Linked DNA regions of Homo sapiens: region 2 is linked to region 1. The links come from fine-mapping of genetic effects on gene expression. Tissue or cell type: cerebellum. Region 1 holds a variant in brackets; the other region holds the start of a gene. All regions are shown on one strand. Distances are from middle to middle.

What was found. PIP is the estimated chance that this variant, and not a neighbour inherited with it, causes the effect.
Region 2: it holds the start of COL28A1, and the variant in region 1 is fine-mapped to the expression of COL28A1 in cerebellum (GTEx, PIP above 0.99).

The regions. Positions count from the first base shown.
Region 1 is chr7:8,196,347-8,204,346 of GRCh38, forward strand. All of the region lies in intron 6 of ICA1 (islet cell autoantigen 1), which reads right to left. Among named protein-coding and RNA genes, the nearest start is that of ICA1, 62 kb to the right of the region's middle. The variant C/T (reference allele first, on the strand shown) is at 3,111.
Region 2 is chr7:7,531,252-7,539,532 of GRCh38, forward strand. It overlaps COL28A1 (collagen type XXVIII alpha 1 chain), which reads right to left and starts at 4,622. Exons shown (of 35, transcript NM_001037763.3): 1 at 4,499-4,622; 2 at 1,501-1,661; 3 at 97-653. The coding sequence starts at 1,624.

The DNA of each region.
Region 1 (8,000 bases):
TCAGGGAGATAGAAGGATGAATAGGTGAAGCACAGATGACTGCTCGGGCAATGAAACTACCCATATGCTACTAGAATGGTGGGTACATGTCACTATACATTTGTCAAAACATAGAATCTACAACACAAAGAGTGAACCCTAATGTAAACTCTAGACTTTGGTTGATAATAATGTGTCAACCTTGGCTCATTAATTGCAAAAAATGTACTGCACTGATGGGGGATGCTGATGGTGAGGGAGGCTGTGTGTATGCACTGGGTATGTGTGTTGTGGGGTGGTTGGGAAGCGGGGAGTGAGTATGCAGAAACTCTGTATCTTTCAATTTTGCTGGGAAGCTAAAAATTGCTCTTAAAATAGTCTATTAACTTTACATATAATATATAATATATTGATGTGGTTTGGCTGCATTCCCACACAAATCTTACCTTGAATTGTAGTAATTCAATTATCACAGGGGCCAGGTGGAGATAAATGAATCACGGCAGTTCCCCCATACTTTTCTTGTGGTAGTGAATATATCTCACGAGATCTGATGGTTTTATAAATGGGAGATCCCCTGGACAAGCTTTCTTTCCTCCCGCCATGTGACACGTGACTTTGCTCCTCATTCACCTTCCGCCACGATTGTGAGGCCTCCCCAGCCATGTGCAACTGTGAGTCAATTAAACTTCTTCCCTTTACAAATTACCCAGCCTTGGGTATATCTTTATTAGCAGACTAATAGATATATTAATATATATAATTTTTCTACACATGAGCATTTAAAAAATGTCTTTGGGAAGGGGTAAAAAAGACAGATGTATATCCTTAATGTAGATGCTGAAAAAAAAAAGACAGATGGTAAAGATGAGAAAAGATAATAAAAATTATGCTTCAGACCCTTAAAAAATGTCTACCATTTGCCAACCACATTAAAAAAAAGAAGAGGCTGGGTGTGGTGGCTCACGCCTGTAATCCCAGCACTTTGGGAGGCCGAAGCGGGCGGATCACAAGGTCAGGACTTCAAGACAAGCCTGGCCAACATAGTGAAACCCCATCTCTACTAAAAATACAAAAATTAGCCGGGCATGGCGGTGCGTGCCTGTAGTCCCAGCTACTCGGGAGACTGGGGCAGAAGACTCACTTGAACCCGGGAGGTGGAGGTTGCAGTGATCACACCACTGCACTCCAGCTTAGGCAATAGAGTGGGACTTCGTCTCAGAAAAAAAAAAAAAAAGAAGAAAGAAGAAATAATAATAATAATAATAATAATAATAATAATAATAATAATGGAGTCTTTCTATTAAAGATGAAGGGTGGAAGCCATCCATTTAGCTCTATTCAACCCTGAAAGCCCACCAAAAACTCTAAGGGGGCACAAACGAGAACAAAGAAGATGGGAAAAGAGCTACCACTACTAAACGTTGGAAGCTGGAAAGTAGATAGATGACTTATAACTAAATGAACAGACCCAAGAAAGCTAAATCCAAATCTGGCAATGGAAAAAACCTAAAAACTACCTGGTTAATTCAGAACTCTCAAAGTTTTATGAACTGATGGTTTGGATACCTTTGGAAGTGGAAGTGATAGGATGGAATGGATGTTAGGGAATCAACCGAAAATATATGTTATACATAATGATTTTATCAGAAGAGTATTCCCTATATTTTGGAATGATGTATTTCTATCAACTTTCTTTTGAAAATTAAAATTTCTAAAAGTTGTGTATGTAACAAACAATACAGATTGTGGTATACCACAAGCCAAAATATGGAAGCAGAATACAAGCTAATGGCCTATGGCAGAAAATGTGGTTTGCATAAATGTTACCCATTGTCACAAACATCCACCCATCCTGCGCTGCACACTGTGCTACTTCATGCTCCTTCTCTTGTGGACTTCTATTCTCTTTCTCCAGGTTGAAGGGAAATCATCCACATACCTGCTGAGATGGTATCAACCTCAACCTGTCTCCTAGCAGAGGAGACAATATGAGCAAAGCATTGTTTGGAGAAAATCAAGTAGCTTGATGTTATTGCAACAGAAAATATGAGGCTGAAAATAGTGTGAATTAAAACCCTAGATTTGGACCAGAGTGAAACCACAGAGGGCTTTGTGGGATGTTGAGGAGCTTGAACTCAATCCTGTGGCCTTGGCAGTTACTTTGCAGAGACGTTGATGTGGTTGGATTTGGGTTTCATTTCAGTCACACTGGGGTATGTGGAAGGCAGACTTGAAGCAGGAAGCCAAGCCAGAGACTGGTGGTCCAGGCGAGCGTCATAAGGCCTGAACAAGAGCCGAGATGACAGACTTAAGAAGACATAGATCTGGAAAATATTTGGAAGGTCAAAATATGCTAATCTGATGATTTGTTGGATGTAGGAGGTGTGAGAGAGTAAGGCATCAAGATGTTCTTTAGGTTTCCAGCCTCAGTGACAATAAAGGGAGCAGTTCTGCACAGCAAAGGAAACAACAACGTGAAGAGATGACCCACAGAATGGGAGAAAATAATGTGCAAACTACCTGACAATGGATTAATAACTAGAGTATATAAGAAGCTCAAATAACTCAATAGGAAAAAATCTAATAATCTGATATAAAAGTGGGCAAAAGATTTGAATAGACATTTCTCAAGACACAGAAATGGCAAACAGGCATACAAAAAAGTGCTCAACATCGTTCATCATCAGAGAAATGCAAATCAAAATGACAATGAAAGATCATCTCACCCCAGTTAAAATGGCCTTTATCCAAAAGACAGGCAATAACAAATTCTGGCAAGGATGTGGAGAAAAGGGGAACCCTGATAAATCAGTACAACCATTGTGGAGAACTGTCTGGAGGTTCCTCAGAAAACTAAAAGTAGAGCTACCATATGATCCAACAATCCCACTGCAGGGTATATACCCAAAAGAAAGGAAATCAGTATATCAAAGACATATCTGCACTCCTGTATTTGTTGCAGCAAATACAGGCTCTTGGCTGTTCACTACAGCTATGATTTGGAAGCAACCTAAGTGTCCATCAATAGATGAATGGATAAAGAAAATGTGGTACTTATACACAATAGAGTACTATTCAGCCATAAAAAGAATGAGTTCCTGGCCAGGCATGGTGGCTCACGCCTGTAA[C/T]CCCAGCACTTTGGGAGGCCAAGGCGGGCGGATCACTTGAGGTCAGGAGTTTGAGACCAGCTTGGCCAACATGGTGAAACCCTGTCTCTACTAAAAAAATAAAAAAAATTAGCCGGGTGTGGTGACAGGTGCCTGTAATCCCAGCTACTCAGGAGGCTGAGGCAGGAGAATTGCCTGAACCCAGGAGGCAGAGGTTGCAGTGAGCCAAGATCATGCCACTGTGCTCCACACTGATGACAGAGCGAGACTCTGTCTCAAAACAAAAACAAAAAACAAAAGAATGAATTCCTGTCGTTTGCAACAACATGGATGGAACTGGAGGTCATTATGTTAAGTGAAATAAGCCAGGCACAGAAAGACAAACATTGCATGTTCTCACTTATTTGTGGAACCTAAACATCAAAACAATTGAACTCATGGAGACAGAGAGTAGGATGGTTACCAGAGGCTGGGAAGGGTAATGGGAAGTGGGAAGGGAAGTCGGGATGGCTAATGGGTACAAAAAAATAGAAAAAATGAGTAAGACCTAGTATGTGATAGCACAACAGGGGGACTACAGTGAATAATAATTTAATTGTACATTTTAAAGTAACTAAAAGAGTATAATTGAATTGTTTATAACACAAAAGATAAATGCTTGAGGAAATGGATACCCCATTTTACACGATGTGATTATTATGCATTGCACGCCTGTATCAAAACATCTCGGGTACCTCATAAATACATATACCTACTATGTACCCACAAAAAATAAAATTTAAAAAATTAAAAAGTACATCAACTGAACATTTATTCAGTTAAAGCATAGTGCCATGTGTTTCCGGGATGACAGAAGTAATTAGGGCTTCTTAAAGTCTTTGAGAACCTTTAGCACAGTTGAGCAAAAAAAAAAAAAAAAAAAAAAGAACAATTACAAAACAATATATTAGAACAATTACAAAGTACTATATTAATGAAAAAGTGAACTCGTGGAAGTTTGGATTTTATGCCAGATTAAAGAAGTGGCCATAAGTTGACATGGAGGAAATAAAGGAACAGATTGACTTCCTGTTTGGGGGACGCAATCATGAAGGGCACGGACATAAGAGCAAGCACATGCCATGTGAAGGTTGACAAGTATGGAAGGGGCCTTGCTGGGAATCAGAGATGAGACCGATGAGGTCTCATGGAAAGGGAGCAAAAAGAACACTTGAATATAGGAAACTGGATTTACTAGACTGTAGTTGACTACTGAAAATCATTTTAGATTCTTCAGTATAATGAAAGAGTTTCATGAAGATTTAAGCCACAGTTATGAATATTAGTTGAGTTTTGAGCTGGTAATCCTGGATCCATCTACTAAATGTCCAGCCAAACAGGATAGTTTCATAATTTATCATTCTTTTCTAATTTCTCACTGTCTATTTCTCAGAAAAGCCATGTCTAGCTTTGGCTCCTTTTGTAACTGTAGACATATTCTGGACTGAAGTGTTTCATGTCTGATCTACTTTTACCACTGCTCTATTCTCTTGATGCCAAAAAACCCCACAAATTTCATTTACTTTAGTGGTCAATGAGTATGGCAGATAAAAACATACTTTCTAGAGTGACAATGCTTGTGTTTTAGTCATAGAAAATTGGGGCAATATTTTTGTAATATATCAACGTGGTTTTCTATTTGCATGTCTATGTGCCTGACCTCCTCCATTGCCAGCCTGAGACATACCTCTCCCTGGCTGTGCCTCTGGATTGTTGCAGGAGAAATACAAAAAGAAAGTTGTACTCTCCAGCTTCTGACAGCCCAAAATTGGGTTCTCAAGTCTGCAGCAAGACAATAAACTTGAAACTCGGGCTTTTTAAAGGATTAGAAAGTGTTTATCTTCCACTTTAGCAGGTGGACTTGATCCTACACTTCGTATTATGGTGGTGGTATGATGGGGTTAATGACAAGAGAAAGGAAGGGACAAATCCTGCCCACCCGTTTCTGGGCTGGGGCCTTCAATCAGGGAACTGGGCCTTTTAAAGACACATGGAGCCCAACTTTGTCTCAGGGAGGAAAAGCCCTGAGGGAAAAACCAAAGGCAGAAGATGAGCTGCCCCACCGCCTGTTTGGGAGTCTGCAAGAGGGTTGCCTCTCAGGCCTGACTTGGCTCCAAGTAGGGTCAGCTGCGTTAAAATAAAGCAGTGCAGTTGATGAAAAAGGGCCGAGTTTAGCTCCCAGGTTTCTCCATAAGCTTTTGTGGTATGGAGAAGAAATTCAGAAGATCTTCTATGTTTTATGGAAAGAAGAGGGAGGTGGCTGAGGGTGCTGGCCAGTAAACTTGCCAGGGAATGGCACTGGGTTAGCAGCCAAATGGAAGTCCAAGGTAATCAGAGTTGCCATTAGGGAGATTCATCAGAGGAAGGAGGCTGAGGATTTTAGAACATTCCTAGGGCTGAGGAAGGAGACCAGGCATTCCCCTGGCCACAGGTTTCAGGAACTCACCATGCAAGCCCAGATGCTGCAGCAAGATAAGCAAGAAACCGGGGGACAGGGAGTGGCCTCAAGGACACCATGTCCCCTGCCTACCCCCAGGACACAGTCAGCCCAATGCCCTCCCTCCTGGGGCAGAGAATGCTTCTGAAAGGGCATCCAAAAAGAGATGATTTAAAACAGTACAGAGGAAGCCAAATTTTGATTGACTCAACATTTAAACTGAAACAACAGAGGCTTCTTAACCTTATTCAACTGACAAGTGTAGAAGACCCCATCATGCTGCTCATGAAGAAACTGCTTTAGTTCCAGAAAATAAGGGGATGCATGTGTCAATGTGGTCTGAGTCAAATTATAATCCCTTCCACCTGGCCCTGACATGTTCTGACTGTGTCACATTGAGACAGTTATGTAACCTCTCTAAGCGTCAAAATCCTCATCTGTGAAAAGGAGATCATAGTGTCTTCCTCTTGGGGAGTTTTAACGAGCCCATTCATGTAAATTGCTTAGAACTGTAGCTGATACATGATAAACTTTTTAAATGTGCTAATTTTGTTATCACTTCTACTTTACATTCAATGTCAAAGTTTCTTTTATTCTGTTCAAGAATGGCTAACTACATCTTTGTCAAAAAATGTCAAAGTACTGTATTTCTGACATTCTTCATTTATGATTTCAGAACCTCTAGTGCATTCCCACAAGCACAGAAATGCCATTCTGGGGATGAATGAGAATTACTGTTTTTATATCACCCTTGACTTTTTCTCAGCTTAGTAAACATCTTGGTACTCACCACAGAAATTACCTCCAAGCCAGGAAGATATTTCTTAAGAATAATGTTAGCTGTAACAAACTGCAGAGTAAAATGATGGAGGCATCTGTAGGACCTGGTGGTGAGCCTGCTCTGTCTTAGGCTGATTACTCCTAAGAGGAAGAACCAGCTATAGGCAATAGACACACCGCACGAATGGGGGAAAATGCAGAGGGGAGGATTCCTTTGTGAACCTGTGGGCAATTTTAACATGCATATCAGGACAGGACAGTGTCAGAGTGCTCCTGGCAAATTCCTTGTGATTAACATGGGTACATTAACTGTCAGAATTGTTTGCTGCTGAGTATTCAATAATAGATATTAACTAACCTGGGGCTCCATTCTAGCTCTTTCAGTTTTCTGTATCAACCTAGAGAACACCAAGGGGGCTTTAGCTGAAGCAGGAGAAGAGATTTCGTTAGAAAGGTTAGTACTGATTCTAGATAAACAAAATAAGTAATTTTTGAGTGTCTGTGATATACAAATTTCTAGGCTCTAAGCCTTAGGTAAACATGCATGTAAGTACTAAAAAGCACATTAAGCCTTAATATAGTAGAGTTCCTGGGAAATCCAGTGGTTTAAGTGACTTTTCCATGTAGGTAAAGCATATTCTATTAAAAAAAAAGTTAAGACATAAGAAATCTTCATATAAGTCAGATACCTCTTATTAAATGTCTATCTTCTAAAATAGAGCAAAATTGCCTTTTTTGATGGATCAGTCATCATCATGAACATCAGCTATTTCACGATGGTGCTCTGAGAAAGTATTTCTCAAGGTGTGATCTATGGATCCCAGAAAAGGAATTATCTGGGAGCCCATTAAAAGTCAGATCTCTGAGCCCCACCCCAGGCCTCCAGAATCAAAATCCTTAGGTAGAAGCCAGGATTCTCCACATCCAACTTGCTTCTCAGAGGATTCTTACACTCAACTCAGGCCAGAGAGGCCCTAATTCAGAGTGAGTTGAGATGTTCTTCACTGGAAATGTCTGCAGGGGGCCTGTTAATTTTCTGTGCCTATTTGCTGTAGGGCTTCTGCTACTTTCCTCTTATGACCGCAAACCTTTCAACAGTGACAGGCTTTAAACCTGTGGGGCAATTTGCAGAGGATCCTTTGCTGGATGCTGGCCTTTGTGATGTCTACTTTCCAACCATGAGCCTCAGCTTTGGGTCCCTGAGTTGAGCCTACTCTTGCAGGATTCAGGCGCCAGACAGACCCCAAGGAATTCAGGCTCTAGACCTGCCATTTCACCTCAAAAAACGACTCCCAGAATAAGGTAGAACAGAAATGTGAAACGCCAAACCCAGAAATGTGACTGGATGTTCAAGAGACAGAGAGATTGGTGAGAAGGAAAAAAAAAAGCCCAAATACTCCTTAAGGGTGCTTGGAACATGAAACACTGGGGTCAGAAAAACGAGTTCAGAGGACGTGGCATGTGCTGGAAGATGTGACTGCTACTTGAACAGGAAGCCAGGTCTCCTCTACCCCAGAAACCTTTTTTTCCAATAGTAACCTAATATCACACAAGGATCTGTTTATCGGATTGTAGTAATATGGGGCTGGAAAGCCGAGAAGAGCACTGACTCTAGAGTCAGAGGCTTGGGTTCAAATTCTAGTTCACACGTATGG
Region 2 (8,281 bases), 660 kb before region 1:
TCCATCTTTTTGACCCAGTATCTCTTCTTATGGGATTTACAACAAATATGTCAATATTATGATGATAACTGTATAATCAACCCATTAGGTACCTACCAGACGATCTTGAATTTTATCTACAAGGGTTGGATCACTCAACAGTAAAGTGGGTTCACTGGATGAATCCCCAGAAATCAAACGAAGTTTGGCTTCATTGACTACCGTAGAAAGTGCAATGGTGATAAATGATATTCCTGAAATTCTGGCATCTTCAGAAATACTTTGAACATCTGGATTCTTTGGATGGTCGATGCCATCAGTCATCAGCAAAACCACTTTCACACCATCCTTACGCCCTTCTCTCTTAAGTAGCCTAGTGGCATTGGAAATGGCATAATAAGAGAAGGTACCTTGCCCTATTAAATTCATAGACTTGACCTTCTGCTTAAATGTCTGCAGGTCCTTCCAGGAAGAAAAAGGTGGATCAATTTGGACAGAGCTGCTAAACTGAAGGGCTGCCAGTTTGATGTCATATTCCAAGGAGCGACCAGGAGTCAATTGGAAAATCTTGTCACTCAAGCTATCCACAAAATCTTTCTGTTTATCAAAGAGGGCAATTTTAGAACTTTCAGAGCTGTCCACGATGAAGACAATATCTATGAAACAAATGGAGCCTGAAACAGAATAAACAGGTTAGGCAAAATAATTATTCCTATCATGAAACAAATTTGCATACGGAAAGCCCTGAAGTGGTGTGTTGTATATTGTTTGGTGTTGAGAGCAGCGTGAGGAGAGAAAGAGAGACACGTTGGACAGAAGGCTTCAATTGTAAAAAACTAAATGTCTAAGTTTATGAATTATTTTCTCCTTGTAAAATCATGCAAATTAAAAATAAATAAGATATCTTTTATTCTGAGCATCTTTTCAATGTTAAACCTGCTGAAAGTGGGAGGAAATGGGAAGTCAAGATGCATCACATTTTAAAAATCCAACTAACACTGAGCATAGTTGTCTAGAAGTAAATGATACTCTAATTCTCAGGTTGTGTCATATTGGTGAGTCCCTATTTTTTTTTAAACTTTCTTGAAATCAAGGGAGAAAATGACTATACCCCCTATACCAAGAGTAAGTGGAGAAGAAACCTAACTTAAACACAACTTAAGTTTAAATCCCAGCTCTGTGTCTCAGTGGTTAATTTGCCTATGGCCTTGAGTATGCCACTCGACCTGTTAAGACCTCAATTTTTTTAATCTACACTATGAGTGGCAATCTCCGTCCTGCCTATTTTACAAGGTTACTGTGAGGCTCAAATGAGATAATAAGTGCACAAGTGCTCTTATTAAAGACTCTGATGTGCTATAAGTATGTAAGGTATATTATCATCATATAATTTTATCAAAGTAGACTATCACATGTATACATGTATATGGCTTGCTATTTATATCAAATGCTATTTAGAAAAATTCACATAAGTATTTTTAACAGGCTAAACTTAAAAACAAACAATTTTTTTTTTTTTACCCTGGACATCACTTTTCCTTGCAAGCAAATTTGATTTTGGTCCTTTCTTTCTTTGTCCGGATACTGTTTGACTCGTAAACGCTGACAAAAGCAGGAGATAGAAGACAAAATATCTGTTCCACATTATGGTAGATGGTGAAAAATCATCTGTCTTGTAGCACCTTTAATAGAAAAGTCAGTTACAAATACTTTAATAAAATATGGTGTTTGTTATTTTTAAATTTCAAGCCAGCAGGGTTGAAAACTGGCATGTGACTGGAAAAAAGAGGTTTTCATTCATATTTCTAGAAAAATATTCACATTGAGATTTTGAAAGATTTCAATCCAAATAAATCATGGCACCATGACCAAACATTTATTAGTGAATATTTCTATATATTCAAAGAACTATATTTAAGTATTCTTAATTCCGCATTGTATTTTGAGGAGCATAGAGTTGGGAGAGCCATTTAAAAACATTTCAATCCCGCTCTATATGATTACTGTGGTTCAATCACAGGGTCTGCTTTGACATTTCCAAATTCTTCAGGGGGAATTCAGATTGCTATATGGTCATTTCATTCACTTTCATTATAACTGATTCCTGACAAATCTAGTATTTTGTAGAACTGTAGACAACCACCACCCTTTCAGGCTTAATACTACACACATAACTTCAGTGAGTTCAGAGGTCAAGGTAAAAATTAAACGACCCTTCTGTTTCCATAGAACCCCATCTCTCTTTTCTACCCTAGCTTTGGAAACTTTGTCTCCACCAGGGGTTCAAAGCTGCATATGCAATGAATCAAAAGAGTATGAGAGCAAAAATAATAGATTTGCTTAAAAGCAACACTCTTCTTCCAGTGATGGCTAAAAGAACTAATGGACAGAAACGGGACTTAAAGCCAAGAAGCACCCCCTCTGAATAGCCCCGTGAAACTATTTTTCTGGGTGGATTAACAACGAAAAATCTAATTCTGTATTAAAATCCTCAATCTTCATCAGTCAATATGCCTAGCTACACACCAACTGACTCTTAAACTGACAGATTTCCCTGGGAGGAGAAGACTCATGTGTTGCTGCCTCAGTATACCCAAGAGAATGGGAACGAGAAAGCTTATTTCGAATCAATACTTAGTATGGCTTAAAAATGCTTGCCTGCTGAAACTTTATTGACTTCAGGAGTTCTGGAAAAGGAATCACATTTTCCTTCTTTGGCACCTTGCCTTTAGGGGATAAGAATCTGGGAAATCATGAGCACGATTTTTCCAGACTCTGAGTAGAGAGTGGAAATATATGCAAAGGCAGTGAGGAGTGAGATGGAGACTGACTTTTTTCATACATGCCAGATGGATAAACCCCAAAGGGAAACAAAACTGTTGGGTTAGGAGAGGACCAATGGATGGCTTCATGCCACAGTCTGCTCCTCACATAGCATCATCCAGCTGGAAGTGTATTAAAAGAACTTTGGATAGGTATGACCAAACATCTTGTGTAGCAATTGGCCAAATGCCAACTGATCCTCAGACAAGGTATACTAAAATGTAAAGACAGCTGGGTATTAAAAACAAAACAAAACCAAGAAATGTGCTAAGGAAACAGAACACACAAAGGCCATCTCTCCTCAAGTTGTCCCTTTGCTAACCAAGGAAAAAAATAAATGATGTACAACTTTAAGTCTGAAGGTTAGTGTAAAGATAAGGCTATGTGAAAAACACAGTTGTTATTGCATTTTCAAAGGGGAAAGGGAATAACACCATGGCCATGGTATTACATATGACTTTTCTCTTTGGTTGAGTTCATACCATAAGGAACATCTCAGAAGTTCTGGAAATAAGAGGCTGAGAACTGAATTCCATTGAGAACTGAGCAAGATTTTATAAGCAACATAATCAAGCAACTCTTCAAAACCCTTCATGTAAGGTTTTAGAAATACTGGCTTTAAATAAAGATTTATCTTTTCCCAAAACTAAGCACCTGCTCTTACTGTTTTCTTGGCATATAATCATGAATTTGTACCTGATCCCTGTATATATGATATTCACAAACATAACTTTTCCATTGACAATAATCCCAGTATCTCATATTTTGTTCTTATTTGCTCTGACATTGTTAATCTAGCTCTCCCAAACCAAAGTCTTGTTATTTCTTTCTGTTTCCCTATTGTAGCCAGAGGACATTTTCATACCTCTCTAGATTTGTTTCTCTAGCTTGTTAGTTCTACTGCTTCCCTGAAATATCTTTCTCGTTTATTAATTTGGCATCTTGAGAGCCCACTCATTTCTAATCACTTTTTACCATGTTTTATTTTGCCTCTGTTTTTAATAATTCTCACCTTTCTCTCTTTCTGATGTCACGTACAAGCAAAATAGGTTTCAGAGGAAACAGTGCCATTAGTTAAGTGAAAGAAATGTGAACCTCTGTGTTTACTATAGGTTACATTTTATAAATGCAGAAACAATCATAATTATTAATCAAATACCGTAGTTTTACTTTTGGCCTAAAATTTATTTGGGGTAAATATCAGGATCAGTAAATAAATCCAAGATACTTTATTTTTTATAATTTTTCAAAAATAAAATGATCTTATATCAGAGTTCACCAACTTTAGTTACAATGTTTGCATCTCAGTTTCTACACAAATAGAAAATGATTGAATAAAGACTTTATTCAAATTGACAAATTAGCCAAGTTGTAAAGTATTCTATAACTAATTCTGAATTGTAAACCCTGTTCCAAATTAAGAAAAAGATGTCCTAAAATATATTAACATCGTTGTAAAACAATTTAGAAGACTGTAAATTAAAAATCCATTTCAAAATAATTTTAAGTTTTAAATTTCTACATTTTAACAATGTTAATATTTTTCTAATAATTGATTTGAAGTAATTGCAGAGAATACAAACTATTGACAAGCTTTCTCACCTAATAATTATGTAAGTAAGTCATTTAGTCTTCCACAGTTCCTTGATGGTCCTATCTGATTTCAAGTGACTAAAATAAATCTGTTATGTCTTACCTTATAAAGTTTGTCAAACAGGAATTAAAGACTAGTTGAGTAAATGCCAACAGCAAGGACTGTGGTTGGGGGTGAAGTTAGCTATTTGATATTGTTCTGTTCTGTGGGAAATAAAAGTGTCTTTGCTTTAGGATCTTTTGCAGTCTTTTGTTCATGTTTATTCGACTAAGTCAAAGCAAGAGTGGTCAGGCATTTGGCCAGGGTGCAAGATCTGGGTGGGATCAGTAAGCAATTTAAAGGAACAGTGTCCTTTCAGAATGAGACTGTGTTTTCCAGACTATTGTAAAAACAACTTGAGAGAACTTTCTACATTTTAGGCATTGGTTGACAGCCTGCCTTTTTTTCTCATGCTATGTCCTTCTCTTTTTATTGCTACATTTCTTTGCCTGGGGGATGTGCTCTAAGATACTGGTTCTGAACATCTCTGTGAAGGAGTATAAATGACACCAGACTCAGAATCAAAGCTGTTTTTTTAAGAGAGGTAACAGTTTGATTGTTATTAAAGCTGGATGATGAGTACATAGGTGTGCATTGTTCTAGTCTTTGTATTTCTGTGATTTTTGAAATTTTTTATAATAAAAGGTATATATAATATACAGGGAAAGAGTGGTCTGAGTATAGTCATAGTTCTGCCCCTAACTTTTATGGGGGCTTCAGTTCCCCACTTATGAAATGAGAGAGTAGATTTAATCATTTATTAAGATGTGTTCGAACTGTAACATGAGAGGTTTACAGCGGTTAATATTTTGGTCTCTCTCTAGGAAAGGATCACTGTGGTTTTTCCACTCCCTGTTTCCCTATTTTCTACCTTGTGGTTATGGTCCATATTAAGTCAATGTTTATCATGTAATATATACTGCCAAGAAGCCACCTGACCCCTAGACAGCTAACAGGCAGGCTTCTCCACGGACTTCCTCTGAAATAGAGAATAGCAAGATCATCCGAGAAAGCAATACAAATGTGCATGTTACGGTTATTTAAAATGAACTTTCTTAGCCATTTTAATGTGTATGAATTTCCTTATTACAGCAATAATAGCCTCCAATTCATGGACACTTACCAGGTGCTAGGCACTGTCCTGAGTGCTTCACACACATTACCTCATTTAATCCTTCACAAGCACAACCACCTATATACAGTAAGTCCTCACTTAATGTCCTCTGTAGGTTCTGGAAACTGTGACATAAAGTGAAACAATTGATAATGAAGACAATTTTCCCAAGAGCTAATTGATATAAATAAGAGTTAAGCTCTTATGGCATATTCCTAGTCACAAAAACATCACTAAACCTCTAAATACTCAAAACACCTCTAATAATAAACATTGAAATAAATCTAAGCTATATATACATTTATGAAAGATTGATAAAAACAAGATAACTGCTTACCTGCATATTCCAGTTCAGGGTCACGGTTGACCAGATCCTGTCCCAGCAGCTGAGGATACAAGGCAGGAACCAGCCCTGGACAGGATGCAGTACTGTCAAAGGGCACTCATACACCCACCCACTCTCTCAGACAGGCACCATGTAGACACACCAATGCATCTAATGGGCAAAGCTTTGGGATGTGGGAGGAAACTCCAGGACCTGGAGAAAACCCACACAGACATGGGGAAAACATGTCAACTCCACACAGTGAGCCTGGCCCAGGAATTGAATTTTTTTTCTCATCAATGTTATAACAAAATGACATTGAACAAAATATTATTCCAGGACCCCTTGTACTTAGTAGATGTTGTAAGAATTCGAATTTTTCCAAGATGGAGGCAGAGAGAGGTTCAGTAACTTGTCCGCTGTCATACTAAAACCAGAGAATGGCAAAATGAACTTTTAACTCAGGCTGGTAAGACCTGTGAGCCTCACTTATAACAACTACTGCATCATTAAGTATCTATGCGAACGTCTGTGTTTTCACTGTCTCCTCCTCACAAAACAGGTTTCGAGGAACTGAGGAAGTTTTGTGAGGCTTTGGTAACAGAAAGAAGAAACGGTGGGTATAATGCAGAAATAACAACGGAATTTCCTAGGGAACAACCATGTATTTACCTGATAGCCTATGGGTGTTAGTCACACTTTTTACTTTTGTAAGATGAGAATCAAGAGACAAGGAAGTAGCATCTTTTCAGGTCAACTCTCTTTTTGCTGAGGCAGGTTAAAAACATGCAGAATAATAATGCCACTAAGAAGCAAACAGGTGATTCCTAGATGGGGGAAATGGACTAAAGCCCTCCTGCCTTGGAGCTGTTTTGATTAAAGTTGGTGGGAGGTTGGAGTCCAACTTAGTCATCCATTCCCTTTCATTCTCCAACATTAAATAGGGTAACTCAAACCAAAGATTTGCCACCTCTCATTCTCAAGCGTGAAAATCAGCACTAAATTAATTGGGAAGATTATGCAAAATAAAATCTTCAGTTTCATCAATCTATAAAAGACAATTAGTTTTGCACCCAGAGAAACAATGCACCACAATCTTAATCCCAACAGATGGTCTTGAATTAGTATGCTATTGGACTTACACCAGAACAAATAAGAGAGCATGGATAACCATAATGACTAGAAAAAGGCAACGTGGAGCCCATGCCCTTCTGACAGTTATTTTGTAGTAAAAGTCTTTATGGAAGAAATATAGCACACTATTTTCATTGTTACTACTATAAATAGCCCAGAGTAAGCAGTCATATTTGTGAAATAAATGATTATTAGAAGTAATTTTTAGTGTTTATCAGTCACTTGAGGTCTGTGATACAATAAATTGCTCTTCTCCAAAGCTCTGCTAGATGAAAATCTTTTTTCAACTTTTTCAAATTCTTTTAATATGCTACCATAGTAGCATCTGCATTGTGTTTATTGATTCTAGTACCAGTGCCAACATCTTAATTTCAGTGGTGATGATATTTTGGGGTCCTAGAATCATTTAAAAAGAGACAAGTCTGCTAGGACTTACATATTTCAGAGAATTGTATCTGCATGAAGTCATAGAAATACACACAAAAAAAGGCTGGTAACAAATCAAAGTTATATATTTTGACCAAGATTAAGGCATAGTATAGTTTCACAAGCTTCTCCCTATTTTAGCCACCTCCCACACTGCTGATCTAGAGTAGAAAAAAAAAAACATTACCAACTAACAAGGAAGAAATTAATGACCTTCGTACCTGATTTGAAGAAATTTGTTCTTGAAGATCCTTTCCTTTCTTTCTTTCTTTTTTTCTTTTTCTTTCTTTCTTTCTCTTTCTTCTTTTTGTCAGTAGAAAAGCTTGATATAGTAGAATTTCTAACACCTGCCCCAAAGCTCTGAAATTTCTGGGATTCATTATCCTTGGACCCAGAATATGACCTAGGCATTCTCTCAACTCCTTCATCAGTAATTAGAGGAACACTGTCTTAGTCCATTTTGTGTTGCTATAAAGGAATACCTAAGGCTGAGTAATCTATAAAGAAAAGAGGTTTATTTGGCTTACAATTCTGCAGTCTATGCAAGAAGCATGACACCAGCATCTGCTTCTGGTGAGGGCCATTGACTGCTTCTACTCATGGCAGAAGGTGAAAGGGGACCAGCGTGTGCAGATCATATGGTAAGAGGGAGCAAGAGAGCAGGGAGAGAGGTGTCAGACTCTTTTAAAGAATCAGCTCCCCCAGGAACTAATACAGAGAGAACACACTCATTACCGCAAGGATGGCATTAAGTCATTCATAAGGGATCCACCCACATGACCCAAACGTTTCCCATCAGGCCCCACTTCCAACAGTGGGGATGAAATTTCAACACGAGGTTTGGAGG